Regions from separate parts of the Homo sapiens genome. Here region 1 is linked to region 2. The links come from fine-mapping of genetic effects on gene expression. A gene starts in region 2. The other region holds a variant in brackets. All regions are shown on one strand. Distances are from middle to middle.

The links.
Region 1: its variant is fine-mapped to the expression of NRF1 in prefrontal cortex (GTEx, PIP above 0.99).

The regions. Positions count from the first base shown.
Region 1 is chr7:129,645,173-129,648,082 of GRCh38, reverse strand. The region is part of intron 1 of NRF1 (nuclear respiratory factor 1); the gene reads right to left. Among named protein-coding and RNA genes, the nearest start is that of NRF1, 35 kb to the right of the region's middle. The variant T/C (reference allele first, on the strand shown) is at 1,487.
Region 2 is chr7:129,610,520-129,613,429 of GRCh38, reverse strand. It overlaps NRF1 (nuclear respiratory factor 1), which reads right to left and starts at 1,710. Exons shown (of 11, transcript NM_005011.5): 1 at 1,606-1,710. RefSeq lists enhancers at 423-562, 2,243-2,292 and a silencer at 863-1,852.

The DNA of each region.
Region 1 (2,910 bases), 35 kb before region 2:
TCCTTCTATTTCATCTTTTATTATATGAATGTATTACTTTGACTTTTAACAAAATGAGCTTTAAAAACAAATAGCTATGATATAGTCTTCCAAACTGATCCTTTTGAAAATTAAAATTAAATGACATGTTAGAGCAAACTGTCACTAGATAAATAAAGCTCCCTTCTTACGTTAAGAACTGAGAACAGCACAGTTCAAGTTTAGAAGTGGCCTTGCCTTGAGGAAGACAAACTCCTAATTTGCGGCATCTAAAACTAACAAAATTGTATGACTAATCAAATATTTTTCATACCAATAGGTTAACTTTGTAAATATTCCTTAATACTAATAACACGATAATCCAGTTAACAATGATGCTTTTATATAATGCTTAAGAAAAATAAGCTTTGGGCTGGGCGTGGTGGCTCACGCCTGTAATCCCAGCACTTTGGGAGGCCAAGGCTGGGGGATCGCGAGGTCAGAAGTTTGAGACTAGCCTGACCAACATGGTGAAACCCTATCTCTACTAAAAATACAAAAATTAGCCAGGGGTGGTGGCTTTAATTCCAGCTATTCTGGAGGCTGAGACAGGAGAATCACTTAAACCTGGGAGTCGGAGGTTGCAGTGAGCAAAGATCGCACCACTGCACTCCAGCCTGGGCAACACAGCGAGACTCTGTCTCAAAAAAAAAAAAAAAAGCAAGAAAAGAAAAAAAAGCTTTACCACACAACTTCATAATGACTTAGGGATGAGTGGATGATTTTATGAAAATACTGTAAGCGCCAGGCATGGTGGCTCATGCCCGTAATCCCGAGAGGCCAGAGGCGGGCAGATCGCGAGGTCTGGAGTCAGCCGGGCCAACATGGTAAAACCCCGTCTCTACTAAAGATACAAAAAATTAGCCGGACATGGTGGCACATGACTGTAATCCCAGCTACTCTGGAGACTGAGGCAGGAGAATTGCTTGAACCCGGGAGGCGGAGGTTGCAGTGAGCCAAGATCGCGCCACTGCATTCTCCAGCCTGGGCGACAGGGTGCGACTCCATCTCGAAGAAAAAAAGAAAAGAAAATACTGTAAGCTCACTGAAGTCAGGGCTCGGGTCCATAAAGTCTCTATGAATAGATCTATCATAATGTGCTCTTTGATAAATGATTGTGGGTAATCAGCTGCACATTTTAATAACTAAAGCTACACCCAGGCAGTTACAGTTTCTGTAACTCTCCTACAAGGTTATGCTTGCTGTTTATCTCTCTCTCTCCGTCTCACTTCCAAGCCCTGTCTTCTATTCTTGTCAGAGTTGCACTATTCCTCGCTCTGGGGCTGAGCCTGCCAACCATGTTTTCCAGACTTTACTGCCAGTATCCTGTTAGGTTTTGCCTAGGGAGACTGGAAGGGGAGAGAAGAAGGGATTTCTTTGCTGTTTTCATTGTTATAATATCAGCATTGCTCCAGCAAGAGGAGTGTTGCACCTCCCAACTCCAGCTGTGCCTCTTCTCTCCTGGTGG[T/C]TGAGTACCAGCTGAATGGCATTCCACTAGGAGATCAGATTACCAGCTGCAGGAGGACCTCTCTGAGCTTCCAGGTTCTTCTCTTCTGTTCCCCCAAACCTAGGGGTGGTAGTGCTTCCTATCTGGATTACCCCAGTGTCTTTTGTGCTCTTTCATCTTGTAACACCTGTGTACCCAGTTCCCAGAATTAAATTATCTGAAATGCCACACATGGTTTTCTAGGCCCCGATTAATACTTAAAGAAGAAAATACATACTTGCATTCAAAATTACTCATACAGTGCTGGTAAGCAGCAATCCGGGATTCTCATACCCTCAATAAAGAAGTGATGTAAAAAATGAAGCCCATTTTTACAAGACTACAATTAGAGTTTCTGTTTTCAGACACTGATGAATCTCAAATTTAATGAATCATTAAAAAGATGCTAAGCTATAGAGTATAAAATGTCTCACAGGCCTGGCGCGGTGGCTCACGCCTGTAATCCTAACACCTTGGGAGGCAGGTGGATCAGCTGAGGTCAGAAGTTCAAGACCAGCCTGGCCAACATGATGAAACCCTGTCTCTACTAAAAATACAAAAATCAGCCGGGTGTGGTGGTACACGCCTGTAGTCCCAGCTGCTCGGGAGGCTGAGGCAGGAGAATCGCTTGAACCCGGGAGGCGGAGGCTGCAGTGAGTTGAGATGATGCCACTGCACTCCAGCCTGGGCAACAAAGTGAAACTGTATCTCAGAATACATAAATACATAAAAATAAAATGCTTCACACAGACAGAAATGGGACACTTAGAAGTGAGAAGGGAGCATAGACAGGAAAGTAGGTGATATCAACACAAACTTATGTTTGTGAGTCTATCTGACCTACTCTTTAAGTCTAACATTCCTGCAAACCTCAAAATCAACATCATAGTACTATACTGTCTCTTCATAGAAATAACACTGACAAACAGAAAATAATTTGTCATATTACTCGATGAATAGATCAGGTTTTTGGAAACCAAAGAAAATGTGGTAGCAATGGTACCTTTGACCTTTATCTACCATCCTAACTCCCTAGCGGACTGCGTAGACCTACTGAAAATCAGTGGTGGGTAATGGCTATCATTTCCAGCATGGGAAAGAGCGATTTAGAGTTACCATTCTTTTTTCTTATTATACAACTGGGCTCAGCATGTACAAGTGTCTGGAGAGTCTCCTCTCCATTCTACCTCATGCCTACTTAAACACATCCTCACTTCTCCGGCGGGGTGGTACAAACTCTGGAACCAGAATACTGTATTCCATTTCTTGCTCTGCCACTTACTAGCAACTTGGAGAAGTTTCATTTGACTTTTTCTGTCTTAGTTGTAACATCTGTCAAATGAAGGAAAATAACAGAATCTACTTCATAGAATTACTGGGGACAAAATGAATTACTATTTGAAAAA
Region 2 (2,910 bases):
AATAAGGAAATTACACTCAGATGCACGGAGAGAACTAGTCATATTTTCACTGTCTTACGGGGTAACCTGTCAAGAACTGTCAAATACAATTTTAGGGAGTCGGGATACTAATGAATCAAACACACACACACACACAAACAGCATCTCCAAGACTCCAGCACCCCCCTTTCCCAATTACTTACTGGTCAAGCCCAAAGGAAAAATAATTTTTTAAAAGGCTAGGCTGAGATGGAATGGGAAAAAGGATCACTGTGAGCACAGATGATGTCCCGGGACAAAAGCTCTGCCCAACACTGCCCAAGCTGACAGGCTCACTCACACTACCTTTCTCCTTATGCGTCTCTCAATACGCAGTCTCTGAACACTTAAAAAAATGTGAATTTTGCTCTGACCACATAAAGAAATCAGCACGATTGACACCAGCTCTAAAATAAGCAATTAATATATTCTAATCTAATGCTTAAGAAGAATGGAGAGCAGGCAACAGCTCCTCCAACTGGTTGGAGCAGATATCACTGGAAGCCCCCCAAGTATTAAGATTTTTAAACAACTTCAAGTTCTGGTGGGCACAGCCAAATACACTGCAGAAACTTTGGGACCAGCAGCCACGACACAACAGGTGAGAGAGGCAGCAGACATCATTGCACGATGGAGTGCACAACATTCAATGACAAACCCGAAAAGGTCTGGGGATATGGGAAAATACCATGCACACGGCCATCTCAGAGCCCCTGTCTTTCCAGTGGCAAAAGGTTCTGTTCCTTCGGAGGGGCGTGCCACTCCCCCTCTCCCTCACCCAGGGGACCACCACCCCAGGCACAGGAAGAACCGCGGCCCCTCCGCGGGCACATCTCAGCTGGGGAAGAAAACACAATGTCGCTCCTTATTTCTGCGTACAAAAGGACTTTGCGCCCTCCTCCTCGAACTGCCGCCCCGGCCACCTCCTAACTTGCAAGAAGGTGGGCAACGCGCCATATTCCAGCGTCCCCCAGTCTACCTGGGTAACAAGCCCACGCCACCCCGGCAGGAGGGAAGCTTCGGAGGTCGCCCAAAGAGCCAGCCTCCTCTCCCGCAGGAGACAGCGGCTCCCGCGCCCCAGCCCGGCCCCACCGCGCCGCCCGCCCGCCCGCCCGCGTACGAGAGCCGGGAAGGGCCGAGGGGGCGAGCCGAGAGCCGCGGCTCCGGTCCCGCGCAGCCCGCCCACCTCCCGCTCCCGGGCCCGGCGCACTCTCCCGCGCCTCCCGCTCCCGAGCTGCGGGAAGGCCGGGCCCCGGGTTCCACGGCGGGGAGAAGGCCGCGGCCCCGAGAGCCCCAGGCGGCGGAGGAGGCCGGAACCCTGGGGCTCTCGGGAGGGCAGCGCCTCCCTCCCGAGCCCGCCAGGACGCCTGGGGCCTAGTGCGGCCTGCGCATCCTCGGGGTGGCGGTTTGGCTGGGCCGGGCCGGGGCCCCCCGCCCGAGGCGGGCCGAATCCGGCGGGGGCCCAGGCCCAGAGCCGGGGGCGGCAGGGTGCCGGCTGCGGGGCGGGCCGGCCGGCCGGCGGGCGGGCGGCGTGTTGCGGCTGCGCCGGGGCTGAAATAGCTGGAGATTGCGCGGTAGGGCACTCACCTCAGAGCGGCTGCGCTACCGTGGGCCTGCGCCGTGGAGACTGCGACCGCGCCGGCTCCTCGCAGCCTCCTGCCACCAGCGGCAATGGCGAGCGCTGCCGCTTCTGCCGCCGCCGCCGCCGCCGAGGAGGGGGAGGGGAGGGAGAGGGCACGCACGCGACGCACGGCCCGGCTTCCCCGCCCGGCCGCCGCCATGATGAGGAGGTCGGCGCGGCTGTGCTGCGGGCAGGCAGCGGAGAGGGCTCGCGGCGAGGGCTCCAGCTTACCCCGCCGCCGCGTCGCGTGCACGGAGCGCTTCAGAGGTTTGGAGGGGGCCGGAACCTCAAAAGCAACTGGATGAGCACAACGCGGACGCCCCGGAGAAGCGGCGCAAGCGGGCCCAAAATGGTTGCTGATCAGACGAGTGGCATCTCTCGCCCCCCTACCGCGGGAATTGGGACCTCCAGACTGTGCCTGGGGGATCGGCAAGTGGTTCCCCTCTGGTTTTTTCGGCGCTGCCTTCCCGGTGGTATCCTCACTCTCTCTCTTTGAAATGACCTCTGCTTTCCTATCTCTAACTCTTCCCAGATATTTGAAAGCAAGTTTTTGTACAAAGCAACATATGAATGTATTCAGCCATTCGATCGTTCGGCGAACATTTCTAGGTGTCTCGTGCTGTGCCAGATATTGTTCTGAGTGCGCTGAAGATGCACCTGTTAGCAAGACAAAGTCCTGGCTCCCACGGAGCTTATTCGAAGCAATAGGGGCCCCCAAGCAGGTGCCTGAGAAGTAGGGAGGGGTGGACAGTGGGAAAACAACCTAACGGTGGAGACACACGAGGGGTCTTTTTTTACTTTTAGAAACGGGGGTGGGTGGTCACCCTATGTTGCCTAGGCTGGTCTCGAACTCCTGGGCCCAAGCGATCCTCCCGACTCAGCCTCCCAAAGTGCTGGTATTACAGGACACCATGCCCGGCAGAGGGGTCGTTTTTGTTGTTTTTTTAGTGTCGTCAGGAGACTCCCTCCATCAGAATTACTCAGGCTGATTGTTTTGAGTCCTGGGACCCAGTTGGTATCCAGAATCTTGGCTTGTTTGCCTAGGAACCTGCATTTTCACATCCCCATCTCCACACCCCTGGTGATTCTTATGCATATAATAATGTGAAAAGCATTGCATTGAAGAATTGCTAAAGGGTGTCAGAAAACGGATTAACAAAATCAGGAAGCTTTAATTTTCAAGATTCTATTAACCTCAAAATTCAACATATCCAAAAATTGAATGTCTTTTTCTCCAGTGTTTTCTAGGAGAGTGCCAACACTAGCCACCC